Regions from separate parts of the Homo sapiens genome. Here region 1 is linked to region 2. The links come from fine-mapping of genetic effects on plasma protein levels. Region 2 holds a variant in brackets. A gene starts in the other region. All regions are shown on their forward strands.

Region 1 (9,302 bases), not on the chromosome of region 2:
CAGTGCACATCTCACTCTCCCGCACACGTCCTCGGTGCTTGATGTTACACTCCTGGTTGGAGATGACATTCAGCAAGGCCACATTTAGGACTGTGTCATTACCCGTACCTGCAGTGAGGGGAATGGGGAGAGGGAGAGGGTCCTGCAGGAAGATCCAGGGCTGGGCCTCCTGGCCACCAGCAGTCCTGTGCACTGTGCTCTTACCTTTGGTCTCACCCCAGCCTGCAATCTCACACTTGGTCCCTGGAGGCACCACATACCATTCAGGGGGCAGGCAGATCAGGGCCACACGCTGGTTCAGGGTCACAGATCTTTAGCAAGAATGGGGGCACTCAGGGTCTGAGGCCACAAGGCCCAGCCCCACCTCACACCCTCCCAGGTTGTCCACATACCTCTCCAGCTTGAGCAGGACAAGCTGGGAGCCTGAGGGCCCACACACCATCTTGGCTACTGGGACCCGCTGTAGGCTTGGCTCTCCATGCTGTGGGTTCTGGAACAGGGTGCCCAACCATACCTCATAGCCCGTGAGAGGCATATGGCTGGGAGAGAAGCTCTGCTAGGTCATTTGTGACTCTCAGTCCATTGCCCCAAGGCTCACTTGTTAGCTTGCCTGGGGAAGGGGGAAGGTGGGATGAGACTGGGTCCCCAAACACAAGGGAGGCTCACCAGGAGGAGAAGCACTGCCGGGCAGTCAGTATCCACTGCTCCTTCACTAGAGACCCCCCGCAGAAATGCTGGCCCTGCCTAGAGGAGTGGGGAATTAGGACAGGTAACAGACTCCTGGGACAGATGCTAGACCTGCCATCTTCTGGCTAGGACCTCTGGGGGCAGGGATAGATTCCCAGCCCCCAGTGGGATAACCACAGAGGACACAACCTCAGCTCCTCTCTGTGGGAGACAGGCAGTTGTGCCTCACCGATTCCGCAAGCTGACTGTCCAGGGTGAGTTGCCCGGATGGCCCCCAACCACGCGCAGCTTGGAACGCCGCTGATCCAGCCGATCCACCCTCTTGCCACACTTCTCAAACTGCACCTGGTCTGTAGGATGGGGTGGGCTGGATGAAACCCAGACTGTGTGGATGTCGTGGGCTAAAGGGCCTGACCCATAACTGGCCCAACTCCTAACCTGGGGGGTCCAGGATTGATGGCGGCTGGTCATCAGCTGAAAGACAAAGTTCACTGGGGTTAAGGGAGCCAGCCTTTGGGTGGGGGCTGAGGCAGGGTCATGGGGGAAGCGTCACTAGTGCTCACCGCAGCGTCGCAGGGCACAGTAGTCGAATGGGGTCCTTGGGTCCATCGTGTAGCACCAGGGCCCATGGCTATCCCCATCTGGGTTCCGGCAGAAGTTCTCCTCCAGTTGTGCATGCGGTTCGGAGGTAAACGTGAACCTAGGCGGAAGCGGGAGCAAAATCGTGGCAGGGTAGTCTCAACCATTTCCAGGCTCTGGTCCCAGACACCAAAGCATGCCGCCCCAGGGTTAGGGCCCTGGCGGGGCCGGGAGCACCAGGGACTCACTGCGGCTTGTGCGGCGTCTCAGCGGACCAGCGCTGGCACTGGACACCCTTGCGGGTCTTGCTGACCGTGCCGCGGTACTGCTCCCCTGCGCCGTGGTAGCAGTCTGTGGCGGGTGCGGGCAGCCATCAGGCCGAGACCTCGCCCCGGCCCTCCGGTTCCAGGCTTCCAGCCCGGCTCTGTAGCCCCCAAGCTTGGGCCTCACCCTGGGGCCGCACGTCGTCTGTACAACGCCGGATCTGGTAGCAAAAGGCCGCGCGCATGCCGGGCCGCAGTGTGAAGCACCAGGGCGCCTCTGAGCCGTCGGGGTTCCGGCAGAAGTTCTCCCGAAGGTCTCTAAGCAGGCGCTCCACTCAGCCCTAGCCCGCCAGCCTCCAGCCTTGAGCCCGTGACTACCTTCCTCCCGTCTCACCCGCAGCAGCACGTCCCAACGCCCGCCCCCCCCCCCCACCTCACTTGCACGCGTATTTTTCTGGCGTAAATCGGTGCTGATGCGGGATTTGCGCGTCCCAACGCTGGCAAGGTACGCCCGCAGTGGTGGTATTGGCTGTGCCCCGGTAGCCCTCACCCTTCCCGCGGAAGCAGCTGACAGTTGTGGCCTCTTGGCGGGGCTGTGCCTCGGACCCTTAGATGGACCGAGATAGGTCGGGCCCCGAGCGAGAGCTGAGATCCCTCTGGGGCTGGGACCAAACCCGCCTTTCCCAGGTGTACGGTACTCCACGGGGTATGCTCTCAGGTCACGCCCAGCCCCTCTTACCTCCCCGGCCAAGCCACGCCCCTCCCCAAGGTTCCCAGGTACCCTCCCAGGCCTGGTCCCCGCCGCCTACCGCAGCGGGGGAGGTCACAGAACTCTCGCTCGATCTGCGGATCCGTAGTGTAGCACCATGGCCGCTCGGAGCCGTCAGGATTCCGGCAATAGTTGTCGTCCAGACCTTGGTCGAGGAACCTGGGGGCGGTAATGGGGCGTGAACAAGACCCTGGGACTCTGGCTTATCTGGCCCCGCCCAATTGCCCTACACGGAGCCCTGCCCCTGGAGTCCTGGACCTTCCCTAGCCCGGCCCCCAGGACGCCGATACCGCCTACGCGTACTTGCCCGGCTCGAAGGGGTGCTGGTGCGGGTGCTGAAGATCCCAGCGCTGGCACTCGCGCCCTGACTCCGTGCGGTCTACCGCGCCGCGGTATTCCTCGCCATTGCACCAGACACACGCGGCTGGAGACAAAGAGCCAGTGGGTTCGTGGATGGACGTGGGCTTGTCCCTCCACTCTCCCAGCTTGACCCGGCGCCGCTTACCCTCCCGGCAGGATTTGATGCCGCAGCTCTGGAAGCGCACAGCAGGGTCTGTTGTGTAGCACCAAGGACCTCCGGGGTCGCCATCAGGGTTACGGCAGAAGTTCTCTTCCAGGCCATTCCGGAGAGTGGGCGTGTACCTGAGGGCCCAGAGCATCACTATAGTGTGTGCTGGGGGAAGGCCCCAGGCCGGGACGGAGGGAAGGTGTTTGTCTCACTTGTGATCATTTGGGAACTTGTGGCTCCAAGCCTGGCAGGGCAGGCCACCCACGGTCGTGGCCATGGTGCCCCGGTACCCAACCCCATTGTTCATGATGCAGGTCCGTACGTAGTCTGGGAGCAAGAGACAGAAGATCAACTTGGGCTGAGGTCCCCTGTCTCCCACCCTGCCCCTCTCCACCCCCACTTGCCTTTCTTCTGGAAGAGGTCACAGCGCCCAGAACGCCGCAGCCTCGTGTGGGGCGAGTGTTGAGTCCATGGCAGCAGTTGGCAACCATGGCTGCTCACGTTGTAGTGGAAGGCCCTGGAGAGAAGAAGGCACAGGGTAACGCCACAGCCCAGGCTTCCCTGCCCCCAGTCTTATCTAGGCCCAGTGGCCACTCACCGGCAGTCCATTAAGGGCCCACAGCGACCAGCACACTCTTCAGCATCTGCCACATCCTCCTGCCAAGGCCCGGGCACCACCGCATGTAGCAGGTGCTGTAGCTCTGTGCCCCGGAGCACTTGGAAGTCATTCAATGGCGAGCGCTGCCCTGCAGAGTAGGCATGAGTGGGTGCAGGTCAGGTGGGCATACATGTCAGTAATGTGTATTGGCATGTCCACACTTTGTTCATTCAGGGGATCAAAGCTACAAGGCTTCTGGGATGGACCCTGTATGCACTTTCAAGGGCCAGTCTAGCCCCCTGCACAGATACTTGTGAAAAAAATTTCCCCTGGGAAGCAGGCCCAGACTTGGTAGTTATCACCGGTGCCTCTGTTTAGTGGCCCAGGCACCGGGCTCAGATCTAACACATACGCTCTGTGAGAGCAGTGGGTGATGAAGCTTGCCCCACCTCATCTCTCAAATGAGAATGCTAAGGCTCAGAGCCATCACATTACCCAGCCAGGGGCCCTGGCTAGGCATTCAGACTCCAAATCTGGGCTCTCACCTGCACAAAGGCATATGCTAGGTTAGAGGGGTAGATCAGGCTCAGGAGGGGTCACTGCCTGCTGTGTGCGTGCATCTGTGTGGTCCTGACACTGCTTCAGTGCTAGAGCAGACGTGCTAATAGAGGCCTAAGTGGGCAATGTCTATGTGTTCCTAGGGCTTCCCAGCTGTGCTCAAGAGGGCAAGGTCACTGCCCCATGCCCACTGAGCCTCTGGCTCCCCGACTTTTTTCTCATCCTAGAATAGGAGAATGGGGCCAACCCCCTCCTGAAGGCAGATGGGGATCAGGGTTGGGGGCACTTACCAGGGACCCCTAAGCATTGAGTCAGAAGCAGCAGGAGTGGGAGCCACCCCATCCTTCTGGCTGGAGGCTGCACTGTGACCCACCACAGCCCCATCCGGGAAGTTGTGAAACCTGTCCCTACGGGATTGGGTGGCTCTGGCTCCACACGTCAGCTCAGGGCCTGCTGGACCCTGACCTGAGACCTGGTGACAGGAGCCATGAGGGGCCAGGCCTCAGGTCCCATAGGTCAGTTGCAAGGGCCTAGTACAGCTTAGTGGACAGGTGTTAGGAAGGTTTGGTGGGGACACTTGAGGTGCCCTGGGGTTGGGGTGAAACCCCTCTGCAGCCTAGTCAGCCCAAGGGCATTGTGAAAGTGAGAGCTGCCAGAGGTCTGGGCTCCAGCCCCTGGGTGACATTAAACTTTTCTGAATTTCGGTTTTTCCCTGTAAATTGGGGAAAATTACTTGCCCCAGCTTCAACACTGCCTCCCCTCCACCCTTTTGCTGCTGCCTTATCAGGCCCCAGCTGTAGGCAGGTCAGCCCACACCCGGCGGCAGAGCCCAGAGAGGCTCGCTCATCTCAGCCGCCAGAAGTGTCATCCCAGGGAAGGTGAGCGAGGCTGTCCACTAGGACTAAATAGGGGTGGAGGTAACAGGTAGCAGGGACTCTGGCAGGAACGGCCTTTCAGACGTTTTAAGGACCGTCTGAGCGGGGCCTCTAAGTATGGGTAGGAGACAGGCGGCCTAGGGATTCCGGTTAGCATGTCGCGTTCTGCCGCAGCAGGGCTGGGAGCATCCCCAGAGCAGGCGGAGGTCGGAGGTGGTGAGGCCTTTCGGCGAAGCTGAGGCCTGGAACAACCCGGTGGGAAGCCATGGAGGGGGTCCCCTAGCGGAGGCTGGGCGCGGGCCAGTGCGCGTGCGCGGCTGGAGGCTCAGCGCGCAAGCGTGCGCGTGATTTGGCCCTGAACGGACGCCGTAGCCAAGAGGTTGGGCGGATGTTGTGAGCCGGGTCGCTGCGGCCGAGGCTCCGGGTGAGTGAGGGGCGGCAGGGCTCTGAGCCTGGCGGGTTCCGGCTATTCCCTTCGCGGTCCGGGCTAGTCCAGTGCGAGGGCACCTGCAGCGCAGGGATCTGGGTGCGAAACTCCGAGCGGAAGCTGGTCTGGCAGGTCCTGTGGAGCTTGGGGCCAGGCGGGGGCGACTTGGGGGAGCCATGCGCCGCCCTCGCCGTCCTTGGGCTCCCAGACGGAGTAGGTTCAGTTCTGAGTCCGGATACCCCGGCGGGGTTGGACGGGATAGCCGTGACAGGGAGTCCCCGGGCGGGGACAAGGTCCGCCTCTCACCTGGGTCCTCAGCAACTGACTCCCGGAGCCCACTCCGGGTGTCTGGAAGGTCTGCTCATCAAATGAATGACTGAGTTTAATCAGATCTTCAACTACTCTGGTAGTGAAGGGGCACCGATCATGGACGCCCACCGAGGGCCCGAGGTCGGGAAAATCACCTTCCCGAGGAGCAGGCGTGGTGCAGACCCACAAGGGTTTGTGGCGGGAGTAGAGGGTCTGTTTGGGGTGAGATAAGAGACTGAACTGCAGAGTAGGGAGTGCTGGCTAAGGCAGTGCTGCAGAGCGAAACTCTAGACCTGCGCTGTCTAATAGAACTTTATATGATGGTGGGAACGTTCTACCTTTGTGCTGTCCAACAGAGTAACCATTAGCCACATGTGGTCATTGAACTCTTGAAATGTGGCTAAGGCAACTGAGAAATCGAATTGTTAATTTTTAAAACTTTAAATTTAAGTAACCTCATGTGGATGACGGCTGCTGTGTTGGACAGCACCGCTACACATCAGTGAGGCCAGCACCAGGGACTCAGTGCAGGTTCTGGAGCAGCTGCAGCAGCAACATGATGTGAGGGATAGATGCACTAGGAGGACCAATGGAGTTTGCCATGAGGGCTGGGCAAGGGTGGTGCTTGGATGAGGTGGGAGGCCACATGTGTGAGTGGGAATGGTGAAACTATCAGGACCATGGATAAAAGAAGGGAGGAACCCAGGGCTGAGGAAAGAGGCTCCAGCCTTGTGGGGAGTAAGTGGGACTTATGGCTAGAGATGACCAGACCAGTGGTGGTCTGCACTTGGGGGAATGTGTAGGATTGTCGCTTCTGGTTGTGAGCTGGACTCAGTATGGCTTACAACTGAGATGGATACAGGGGCTCTGCCCCTAGGACACCTCACTTTGGACATTTTGGTCTGATTTCCACAGAGCTGAGACATTTTGTTATGGTTCGGCAAAAATATATCTAGTACCTGCTCTCTGCCCAGCCCTGTGCTGGGCACAGGGACACTGGAGAACAAGAAGTGGTCCCTGTTACATGGGCCTAGACCCTGGCTACCCTCCCTGTGTAGGAAGCTGGGAGCCCCTGCATTCCCCTGCCCTATGTGTTAGTGTGCATGCCCCTGGCCTCACCTGCTCCCAAGCCTTCCTGCCATGGCAGGACTGAGGTCAGGTGTGGGGGCCCCTGGCTGGCCCTGAGTAGACAGGCTCTGTGTCTGGCTCAGCCCCCAGGACCACTGGCTGCCCATGAGAGATGAAGGATGGCATCCAAGGGGGCCGGCATGTCTTTCTCCCGCAAGAGCTATAGGCTGACCTCAGATGCTGAGAAATCCAGGGTCACAGGTAAGAGCTGGCAGGGAAGGAAGGAGGCTCCTCTTGTTGGGAGGAGAAGGAAGGGACAAAGGCCTCAGGCCTTGCTGCACCTGTGGCTGGCCTAGGACCAGAAGTCTCTGGGGCCAGCAGGGGCCAGGAGCTGCACTGATCATGTGGCCCTTTTCTCCCTTCTGACTTGTGGCTCAGGCATTGTGCAGGAGAAGCTGCTGAATGACTACCTGAACCGCATCTTTTCCTCTTCTGAACATGCACCCCCAGCAGCCACCAGCAGGTATGGCTGGGTGGGTGGCCCCTCCTCACTCTGCTGGGCCAGACCAGAATAAGGAGGCTGCAGTTGTAGGGAAAGGGAGCCTGGGCTCTGGACAGATAGGCTTAGGCTCTGTTCTCACTGTGCTCCTGGCTGCGAGATCTCTGGCCAGAGAGTCTGCCTTCCGTACTCTGCTTCTTCCTGTCTCCAGGCAGTGCTAGTTCCTTCTGAGAGTCAGGGAGCAGAGGTCAGGGAGCGGGTGCACATTCATGCCCAGCTAGCACCTGGCACCTACTCCATACCCAGCATCTGCCCCTGCATGTACCTGCCCTCACCTTGGCCCCAGCCTGGCCCCTTGTAGCTTCTGACTGACCTTGTAAAGAACAAACTCCTCCAGGGCCTTTTCTTTACAAGTTTAATACTTTTAAGTGTAGTCAGTATAAAAGTTACAAGTACATTTTAGCAGAAACTTAGAGGGCCAGGCACAGTGGTTCACACCTGTAATCCCAGCACTTTGGGAGGCCAAGGTGGGTAGATTGCTTGAGTCCAGGAGTTCAAGACCAGCCTGAGCAACATGGCAAGACCCCATCTCTACAATAAAATACAGAAATTACCTGGGCATGGTGGTGTGCACCTGTAGTCCCAGCTGTTAGGGAGGCTGATGTGGGAGGATCACTTGAGCCTAGGAGGTTGAGGCTGCAGTGAGTTGGCCTCTGCATGCCACTGCACTGTAGCCTGGGTGACAGAGCAAGACCCTGTCTCTAAAAAAAGAAGGAAAAGCACCTGCTATCTTGTTATTTTAACATGACTATTCAAATGTGATTCTTTTCTGTTTCTTTCTTTGTGTTACATTTTTAATTTTTAATTTTTGTGGGTATGTAGTAGGTATATATATTTATAGGGTACATGAGATACTTTGATACAGGCATGCAATGCGTAATAATCACATCATGGTAAATGGGGTATCCATCCCCTCAAGCATTTATCTTTTGTCTTATAAACAATCTAGTTATACTCTTTTAGTTATTTTTAAATGTACAATTATTATTTACTATAGTCACTCTGTTCTGCTACCAGATAGGTCTCATTAATTCAATTTTTTTGTACGCATTAGCCATCCCCATCTCCCCACAAGCCCTATACTACCCTTCCAAGCCTCTGGTAACCATCCAGTACTTTGCCTCTATGAGTTCAATTGTTTTAATTTTTAGCTGTCACAAATAAGTGATAACATGCAATGTTTGTCTTTTTCTGCCTGGCTTATTTCATTTAACATAATGACCTCCAGTTCCATCCATGTTGTTGCATATTACAGGATCTCATTCTTTTTTATGGCCGAATAGTACTCCGTTGTGTATATGTACCATGTTTTCTTTATTTATTCATCTGTTGATGGACACTTAGATTGCTTCCAAATCTTGGCTATTGTGAACAGTGCTGCAACAAACATGGGAATGCAGATATCTCTTTGATATACTGATTTCCCTTCTTTCAGGTATATACCCAGCAGTGGGGTTGCTGGATCATATGGTAGCTCAATTTTTAGTTTAGTTTTTTTTTTTTTGAAAAATTTTTTTTTTTGAGACGGAGTCTTGCTCTGTTGCCCAGGCTGGAGTGCAGGGGCACAATCTCAGCTCACTGCAAGCTCCGCCTCCCAGGTTCATGCCATTCTTCTGCCTCAGCCTCCCAAGTAGCTGGGACTGCAGGTGCCCGCCACCATGCCCAGCTAATTTTTTGCATTTTTAGTAGAGACGGGGTTTCACCGTGTTAGCCAGGATGGTCTTGATCTCCTGAGCTCGTGATCCGCCCACCTCGGCCTCCCAAAGTGCTGGGATTACAGGCGTGAGCCAGTGTGCCTGGCCTTTTTTTTTTTTTTTTTTTTTTTTTTGAGATGGAGTTTTGCTCTTGTTGCCCAGCCTGGAGTGCAGTGGCATGATCTTGGCTCACTGCAACCTCTGCCTCCCAAGTTCTAGTAATTCTCCTGCCTCAGCCTCCCGAGTAGCTGGGATTACAGGCACAAACCACCACACCCAGTTAATTTTGGTATTTTTAGTAGAGATGGGGTTTCGCCATGTTGGCCAGGCTGGTCTCGAACTCCTAGCCTCAGGTGATCCTCCCACCTCGACGTCCCAAAGTGCTGAGATTACAGGCATGAGCCACCG
Region 2 (9,302 bases):
GGAAAGAAGAGCTTCTATTTTTGGAAAGGGCTGCTATGATTGAGAAAAGTTCATGGCAGCAAAAAAAGGACAGACGTCGGGAGGGAAACACTCCTAGTTCTCCCAGACAACACATTTTTTAAAAAGACTCCTTCATCTCTTTAATAATAACGGTAACGACAATGACAATGATGATTACTTATGAGTGCGGCTAGTGCCAGCCACTGTGTTGTCACTGGGCGAGTAATGATCTCATTGGATCTTCACGGTGGGCGTGCGGGGTGGACAGCCTCACACCCCCATTTTACAGATGATGAAAAGGAGGTGCAGGGAGTGGTGCAGCTGCTTCAGGCGTACACAGATAGGAAGTGACAAGGCTGGGACTCTGCAGCCTGAGTGTGTCATCACGACCCACCCGCTGCTCTGCTCTCATAGGTATGACAGCACAGCTCTGGAGCAAATGCCACGCACATTTGCAAGGTGCCCATTTCCATGCAGCAAAAATAAGTCAATAAGTTATTGACTTACAGAAAAGCAAAGGGCCTCTCAATAAAGAGGTCATTGTACACCTCTCCAAACAGGCGATTTTCTTTCTCATTTTTATTCCCCTGCTGTGTGCTGAAGGTCACTGGCTACAAGCCGGTGAAGTCGCGGAATGGAATCCTTGGCCCGAAAACCCAAAAATGGGAGGGGCAGAGGAGGTGGGGACAGAGCGGGAGGAGGTGGAGGCGAAGCAATTCTACAACCCGGGGAGGTCTGGCCTGCTTTTCCTCCCTGAACTGGCCCAATGACTGGCTCCCTCACGCTGACCACTCCTCTGGGCTGGCCTCCTGCACTCGCGCTAACAGCCCAGGCTCCAGGGACAGCCTGCGTTCCTGGGCTGGCTGGGTGCAGCTCTCTTTTCAGGAGAGAAAGCTCTCTTGGAGGAGCTGGAAAGGTGGGTGCTAAGTTGAGGTTCATTTTGTTCTTCTCGGAGTGTGCTTATTGAGTCTGAAGCTGGGTTGGGGCAACGGGCCTCTTCTTGGGAACAAATTGGATCATCTTCTTGGGAAGGAAATGTACTTTCCCTGGCTGCTCTGAGGGGTTAGTGGGGAGGTGGAGTGAGCGGGGAGGAAGGCAAGGAGGGGAGGAAGAAACCGTTCCTCCTGTGGATCTGCAAAGACCAGTCCAAGAGGATTTTAGTGTTAGGAAAAGGAATCTGGAGTGACGAGAAAGGGGGCCTTTCTAGATGTTGCATGGCTTTGGTGTCGGGAGCCACTTATGGGACAGCAGGTACTCTAAAAAGCCACCTCCTTAGGAAAGCAGAGAGGCCCTGGCCAGCTCAGGCTCCCAGCAAGAGCTCCTTCTAGGAGACAGCTGAGGGATGAAACACACCCAAGGCTCAAGAGGGGCAGGTTCTTCCCAGATACAGACCCAGGAAGGAGATAAAGGCTTGGTGCCTCTATTTGGTTCAGGATAAGGGCCCCTGTCCTCTTTCTCTGATAACACTGTCCTCTTTCTCTGATAACACCGTCCTCCCTTCCAGATCCACGTACAAAGGAGGCCCTTAAAAAGGCACTTGGTCATTCACAGCTCAAACTGAGCAAGAGGCTGTGGGAGAAGAATCAAGTTGGTCCCGAGGGGAAGAGGTGTCAAAGGCTTAAGAAACAAGAAGTCAGAGTTTACCTGGGTTTGAGGGAGAATTTTCTTTCCCCCTTTTCCTCCTCCTCCTCCTTCTTCTCTTTTTTTTTTTTTTTTTTTTTTTTTTGAGACATGGTCTCATTCTGTCACCCAGCACCCAGGCTGGAATGTAGTGGCACGATCACTATCACGGCTCACTACAGCCTCTACCTCCCGGGCTCAAGCGATCCTCCTACCTCAACCTCCTGAGTAACTGGGACTACAGGCACATGCCACCACACCCAGCTATTTTTTTTTTTTTTTTTTGCTAGAGATGGGGGTCTCTACCAGGTTGGTCTCATACTCTTGTACTCAAATGATTCTCCTGTCTCATCCTCCCAAAGGGGTGGGATTACAGGCATAAGCCACCATGCCTGGCTCTTCTTTTGGTTTCAGAGAAAAACATCTCCTTAAAATGTTTATTTCCCAAGGATTCTTGAAAAAGAAAGCTCACTGACACACCCAAAACAATCTGGTTTTGCTCTGTGCTTTTAGGGAGAACTTTCTAAGCAGCAGAGCCCTTCTGAGTGGCAGGGCTGTCTTAGGAGGAAGGTGTCTTTGATGATGGGGAACTTCATGTCCAGGTCTGGCAGGAGAGTTACCCCACTTTCCTGCCTACTCCCTGGGGCTTTGGGGTAGTAGTACCACATTGGGCCATGTCATTTAGGTGAGTCCTTCAACATCACTTTCTCTGCTTCTCCCTCTTTCTGGATCCTCCTTCTTGGAGCCTTTCAAGGGGACCTCCTCTCACAGTGTCCATAGCATCTCTTAGCTAATGGTCCTTAAAATCTCTACCAGCAGCTCTCTCTGATAGCTAAGAGCTGCCATTTACTGGGAACTTTCTATGTACTGGGCTCTGTGCTAAGTGCCCTAGATGAGAGATGTGCAGTGTGGTGCCTAAACCTTGGGCTTGGAGCAGACACACACTTTCAAATCCTGCCTTCAGCTCCTTAGTGAACATGTCACCTTGGGCGGGACACACGCCTCTCTGTGCCTCAGTTTCCTACACTTTAGAATGGGGATAACACTGAATAATGTTCTTGTGAGGATGCAGGGAATTAACCCACGCACAGTACTTATAATAGTGTCTGGCGCCTGTGTTCGATAAGTTTTAGCAATTCTAATCATCTCTTTTAAGCCTCGCAGCAAGCCTCTAAGGTAAGTCTGTATTAGTATCCCTATTTACAGATGAGAAAACTGAGGTTCACAGGGGATGAGACAGTGTACAGTCTGCAGTCCAGCAATTACTCTGCTACTCAGCAATAAAAATAGTAACAGCTAACCCTTAGACTAAGTGGCAGAGTCAGGCTTTAGATTCATGAGGTGAGTTCTGGAATCCATCCCTTTAATAACCACACTAAATTGCCTTTCTGAAATGGTTATATAAAGCATATCTACCCAATCTTGGAGTTTTTTAAATGGCACCTAGTTTGGTGCTGGAAATGCAGTTGACCTTCAAAGCAATTCTTTGGAGGCAGCATCAATCCCTCTGGAAATACCTCGGTGGCATGGCTGGCCTTATTCTACAGGTAAGGAACTTGAAGCTAAGCATCAGTAACCCCGTGAAGTCACAGTTAGTATAGGTTGGAATTGGGATTCAAATCTGTACCTGACTTTATAATTCCTAGCTGGGCCCCAGAATCTTTGATAGAGGTGTCTTCTTTCTTTTCTTTTCTTTCTTTCCTCTTTCTTTCCCTTCCTTCCTCTCTCTCTGTCTTTCTTCTCTCCTTTCTTTCTCACAGAATCAAAATCTCTTGGGGTGGGGCCTGGGCATCTGATTTTTAAAAACCAGACATCTGATGTGCAGTCAACACTGAGAACCCCTGCCAGCTTCATCTCCTCTTCTAAGTGCCAGACCCAAGTTTCCGACTGTCTGCCCACCTGTCTTCCCACCTGGGCACCCGCCAGCGTCTCACCCTCAGGAGACTCCAGCTGAACTAATCCTCTCTCCCTGCTTTTCCAGAACAGGTCCCACCCTCCCTCCACTCAGTCTCTCCTGCTGGGAACCCTGGTCATCTGCACTGTGCCTTCATCTTCCATCCTGCCAGTGCTGCCCGGTGTGTCTCTTAAACCCATGCCTCCTCTGTGTGCACCACCTGCACTTTGGTAAAAGCCTTCATTTCCTGCTTGGGTTACTACAACGCCCCCTAACTCATCTCACTGTCTCTATTTCTGCTTCTCTGTCTCTCCCTAGGCTACTCCCATTCTTCCTCCCCTTTCCTCTTCATCCCAAAGTCCAACCCATATCCTTTTACCAGTAGGACTTAAGGAACTAAAGACTATCTCATCACCCACTTTTCTTCTTAAAAACTTCCACTGCACTGCCTGCTGAGATGGCCTTCCTACCCAACTTGGCTGGAAAACTCCTACCCATCTTGTGGAACCCAGTTCAAAAGTCACCACCTCTGAGAAGCCTTCCCTGAGGCTCCTAGGGAGATGGGTACTGCCTCCTCTGTCCTTCTCCAGCACAGGCCCCATCTTCAATCACAGGATTGTGCTGGAATGATTGGATGCCAAGTCTGTCCCTCACTGAACTCCTTATGCAAAATCCATATTATATGTTTCCTTTTGCCAGGTGTGGGCCCAGGTGCTGGGGATACCGATGAATAAAACTGAGTTTCTGTCTTCAAGAAGCTCCAAGTCTACTGAGTGTAGCAGAGAACAGGGAGAAGGCACTTCAGGGAGAAGGCGTAGCACATGCAAAGCCCCAGAAGGCAGGGACAGAAGCCTTAGGGATGTCTGTGGGGGAGGATGGAGGAAGAGGGTAACAGGAGACCAGGTGGGGAGATGAGGGAGGTGGTCTGGAAGGGCCATGAGACACCCCTCACGCTCCCTGAGACCCCCTCCACGCTATAGAGATGGGACTGGAGAGGACGATGATCATTTGTGACTCAGATCCCTGTGGGTTTCTTCAGATTGGGTCTCACCCATCTTTACAGCCACAGCACCTAACACAGTGCCCGGCACACAGCAGGCCCTAGACAAACGTTTGCCACATGAAGTCATGCCCACTGGGCCAGGAAGCCCACTGGGGACTGGGGGGTTGGTTCTGCGATAATGGGGTCCCTGAGATTCTATGTTTCACGTGACTAAGCCTCACTCTGCCCCCACCTCCGCGGGGGCGTCCCGCAGGTGCCCGACTCCAGCCATGCTGGCGCTACTGTGTTCCTGCCTGCTCCTGGCAGCCGGTGCCTCGGACGCCTGGACGGGCGAGGACTCGGCGGAGCCCAACTCTGACTCGGCGGAGTGGATCCGAGACATGTACGCCAAGGTCACGGAGATCTGGCAGGAGGTCATGCAGCGGCGGGACGACGACGGCGCGCTCCACGCCGCCTGCCAGGTGCAGCCGTCGGCCACGCTGGACGCCGCGCAGCCCCGGGTGACCGGCGTCGTCCTCTTCCGGCAGCTTGCGCCCCGCGCCAAGCTCGACGCCTTCTTCGCCCTGGAGGGCTTCCCGACCGAGCCGAACAGCTCCAGCCGCGCCATCCACGTGCACCAGTTCGGGGACCTGAGCCAGGGCTGCGAGTCCACCGGGCCCCACTACAACCCGCTGGCCGTGCCGCACCCGCAGCACCCGGGCGACTTCGGCAACTTCGCGGTCCGCGACGGCAGCCTCTGGAGGTACCGCGCCGGCCTGGCCGCCTCGCTCGCGGGCCCGCACTCCATCGTGGGCCGGGCCGTGGTCGTCCACGCTGGCGAGGACGACCTGGGCCGCGGCGGCAACCAGGCCAGCGTGGAGAACGGGAACGCGGGCCGGCGGCTGGCCTGCTGCGTGGTGGGCGTGTGCGGGCCCGGGCTCTGGGAGCGCCAGGCGCGGGAGCACTCAGAGCGCAAGAAG[C/G]GGCGGCGCGAGAGCGAGTGCAAGGCCGCCTGAGCGCGGCCCCCACCCGGCGGCGGCCAGGGACCCCCGAGGCCCCCCTCTGCCTTTGAGCTTCTCCTCTGCTCCAACAGACACCCTCCACTCTGAGGTCTCACCTTCGCCTTTGCTGAAGTCTCCCCGCAGCCCTCTCCACCCAGAGGTCTCCCTATACCGAGACCCACCATCCTTCCATCCTGAGGACCGCCCCAACCCTCGGAGCCCCCCACTCAGTAGGTCTGAAGGCCTCCATTTGTACCGAAACACCCCGCTCACGCTGACAGCCTCCTAGGCTCCCTGAGGTACCTTTCCACCCAGACCCTCCTTCCCCACCCCATAAGCCCTGAGACTCCCGCCTTTGACCTGACGATCTTCCCCCTTCCCGCCTTCAGGTTCCTCCTAGGCGCTCAGAGGCCGCTCTGGGGGGTTGCCTCGAGTCCCCCCACCCCTCCCCACCCACCACCGCTCCCGCGGGAAGCCAGCCCGTGCAACGGAAGCCAGGCCAACTGCCCCGCGTCTTCAGCTGTTTCGCATCCACCGCCACCCCACTGAGAGCTGCTCCTTTGGGGGAATGTTTGGCAACCTTTGTGTTACAGATTAAAAATTCAGCAATTCAGTACTGCGTCGAGGTCTTGGTTACTTTTTTGTTTGTTTGTTTTAGGCTTCTCTCCCAAGCTGAGCTTTTTTTTGTTTTGTTTTCGTTTTCCTTTTTTTTCTTTTTTTTGGGAGTGGCAAACATGCTTCCCAAATCCCTACAGGACTTCTCCTTATCCTCTGCCCCCACCTCCCTAACCCTGCTGGCAACAACGTTCAGCCACTGCTTGTCTTGCCCTTCAGTGTGGCTCCAAGAGGAAGATCACCAGAATCACTCAGGGAAGTTAAAAAAAAAAAATACAGCTTCCTGGGCTACATCCCAGAGCTGTGGAATCCAAAGGGAGAAGAGAAAGTGAATTTGCGACAAGCGTCGGGATGATTCTGGCACTGGACCCTCTGGCCTGAGAGGGGAAGAGGCCTTCCATCTCACCTGGGCTGGTAGCTTGTCACATCTGCCTCCGAGTACAGCCTTAGGTCCATTTCCCAGATATCAGAGACAGTGCCAGGGAAGCCAGGTGACTGCATCTTGCCTAGGCACAGAAGAGTAGGGTTGGAATGTGACGTTGTTAGCATTTGGCAGGACCAAAACCAGAGGCAAACGGAGGCAGTGGGATGGAAAGGCAGTTGATTTTGATGAAGGCTTGTTGGGAGTTCAGCTTTCTTTTGAAACTTATAATCTATACCCAGGCTAGAACAGTCTTGTGTATACACCTTCATTCATGGAATAAACGTACTTGCAATAACTTTTTAGCCTCCCAGGGTAGCCTCACTTCCTAGCTGTGACTTTTCCACCCTGGTTACTGGGAGGCAGCTTCCATTTCTCCCAGACTAGCTAGGCAGTGCGTCCAACTGAACCGCAGCCAGAAACCTGTCTCCAGGGGTTATTTTTACCTCTAACTAGGACTAACTTATTTTAAAATCTTTCCTTGAGCCCAAGTGACAACTGAAGAGAAAGGCTATTGCCTGGTGATTTTGCTCCACCAGTTGGTTCTCACTGGTTTGAATACTAACTTGAACTGTACTCATCGACACTGAAAGGGGATGAGCAAACAGTGTCTCTAAATCTCCTGATCCTGATCTCAAATATCCCCCTAATTACAAGTTGCAACAAGGCAGCTATTACACGGGGACACAGGATGGAGAGGATGGGTGCCAAACACCCATCGTCTACTCTGCTGCCTCGGTTATGGTGAATTCAGGACCATCAAGGGAGGTGTGGACCTTTTTTTTCAGAAGGAGGCTGACACTTCTTGTCAATTGCATTGTGTTCTTAGTTTTGCTCTTCACAACCCTTGACCCCGTAGATGGGGGCTGAAGAGGCACCCTGGCCGACTCACTCTATTTCTGTTTTGGGAATGGGATGGATAAACTATCCCATGGGCCTCCAGAGCCAAAAAACCAAAACGAAACAAAACAAAAAACCCCAAAACAAAAAAGCAAAAAGCAAACAAGAAAAAAAAAAAAAGAGGAAATAATAGGCAGACAATTTACAGTTCATTGTAAGGGCAAAGATATGCATATAGCATGATGGTTAACAGGTCAGACTCAGGTAGAAAGGCCCATTTGAACCCCAGCTCTGCCACACTCAGAAACTGTGTGACCCGAACAAGTCACTTAACCTCTCTGAGCATAGGTAAAATAAGATCATCATACCAGATTGTTTTGAAGATTAAATCAAGTGTTATTCACGAGAGGTGCACAGCATAGCATGCACAACAAATAAGGACCTGGTAAGTATCTAATTAATAACAATGGCTAAGATCCAAAAAACAGCTACCTACTAATAAATAGATGGAGCTGCCTTGTAAGGCAGTGAGCATCATGCAACCAGGATTCAAATGAAGGACAGTTGCTACCTCTGAGGTTCCCGAGAAGGATTTCTGCATCCATTGAGAGACTGAATGACATGAACTCTGCGATCCCATCTCTTGTGGGGAGGGAACCTAGAATGAAGGGAAGATTGTGGGCCATAAAGGCAGACATCTGGTTCCTGGCACAGAACCATATGTGTGCCACCAAAGCCACCCACCGGACCCCACTTGGCCCCTGGAGTCTATTTTTACTCCTCTCATCTTACAGATCTATTTTGTTAATCTCCTTATATTTGCTGTTTTGACTTCCCAGCCAGCTTGCTAATCAGTTTGCCTATTTGACTCACAGGGTTTGCATTTGTCACGGGGACTGAAACACACGCTTGTTTTGATTTCTTTTTGTAAAATTAGAAGCGTTTGATGTAATGACTCTACCTAGACACAGCTGGTAAAGTGAGAATAATGCTCAAGTTTGCACAGTTTAAACACAATGTAGACAATAATTAGAAATGCTATCTTTAGATGTTTAGGATAAGCTTTTTCTCAGAATTGCACTGATTTTTTTTTTCTGAGTGGGGCTTTTTAGTGCATATATACAGAAATACTAAAAACGTAAGAAAATAGAGCAAATCAGTGAGTGCTTTGGTCAACTTGAAAGACTGCAGGAAATAAACCAACTGATTTTAGATCTGCCTTTTTTTGACTGAATGCATAAAATCTTTACATTCTCCATATTTTTCATGACTACCATATGATCAAATAGTTTTAGGTGACAGATTGCAACTGATAAGTTGCTGCAATATGGCAGAAGTCATGCTCAGCCTCCGCTTGCCCGGTGGTGAGGGTGGAATATGAAGCAAACAATAAAGATAATTCATCATCTCTATCAGGAAAATTGCCACATGTTTATTTCAGGTAACAAAAAAGATATAGTTATGATATACAATGACCATAGAATCCAATAAAGCAACTTCTGCAAATGAATAGAAGGTACTTTTTCTTTAAATGAAACTACAAAATAGCAGCTGGTTTTAAAAACAAAGCCAATTGTTTTAGATTTAATAGGCTACCACTGGCCTCTGCTAAGATCCCCAAATATATTCCTGAGCTCACATAGATTCCAGAAAGTCAAACTTTTCAATATTATGCAAACTTTCCCTATGCATCCAAAAAATTCTCATTTAGTAAAGAGGTGATATGAAATGTAAGGCAGCATGTCCATATCTATCATTTTAAATTGCCTTCATGCTGTATCAACTGGTTTTGTTTTGGGAAGCAACCATAATATTGAGAGACGGGTCTTTCCTATTTTTTCTGCTACTCATTTCTAACTAGATTCACTACGGAGCTCCCAATTGCATCTCTCTGATCTACAAATTTTTCTCTCTTCAGGAAGACACCTGGAA

Alleles and levels. Alleles are on the strand shown, and positions count from the first base shown. The strength of an association depends on the size of the effect and on how common the allele is.
For the plasma level of the protein whose gene starts at base 5,129 in region 1, G is the low allele of the variant in region 2 and C is the other (weak association).

What was found. PIP is the chance, under the fine-mapping model, that this variant and not a neighbour inherited with it causes the effect. The UK Biobank Pharma Proteomics Project read protein levels with antibody pairs (Olink). The fine-mapping took linkage between variants from a reference panel, not from the people measured, so its PIPs are less certain.
Region 1: MST1 starts here. The variant in region 2 is fine-mapped to the plasma level of the MST1 protein (UK Biobank, PIP above 0.99).

The regions. Positions count from the first base shown.
Region 1 is chr3:49,684,346-49,693,647 of GRCh38, forward strand. It overlaps MST1 (macrophage stimulating 1), which reads right to left and starts at 5,129. Exons shown (of 18, transcript NM_020998.4): 1 at 4,253-5,129; 2 at 3,405-3,552; 3 at 3,211-3,323; 4 at 3,019-3,133; 5 at 2,804-2,940; 6 at 2,602-2,722; 7 at 2,339-2,457; 8 at 1,968-2,136; 9 at 1,717-1,847; 10 at 1,515-1,617; 11 at 1,251-1,387; 12 at 1,126-1,161; 13 at 917-1,037; 14 at 667-744; 3 more. The coding sequence starts at 4,346. RNF123 (ring finger protein 123) reads left to right here and starts at 5,212. Exons shown (of 39, transcript NM_022064.5): 1 at 5,212-5,261; 2 at 6,785-6,902; 3 at 7,080-7,164. The coding sequence starts at 6,821. RefSeq lists enhancers at 1,539-2,252, 2,253-2,966, 4,483-5,042 and a silencer at 2,521-2,640.
Region 2 is chr4:24,794,736-24,804,037 of GRCh38, forward strand. SOD3 (superoxide dismutase 3) reads left to right here and starts at 838. Exons shown (of 2, transcript NM_003102.4): 1 at 838-916; 2 at 4,771-6,107. The coding sequence starts at 4,787. The coding sequence ends at 5,509. CCDC149 (coiled-coil domain containing 149) reads right to left here. Exons shown (of 13, transcript NM_001395273.1): 13 at 8,779-9,302. RefSeq lists an enhancer at 4,990-5,490. The variant C/G (reference allele first, on the strand shown) is at 5,477.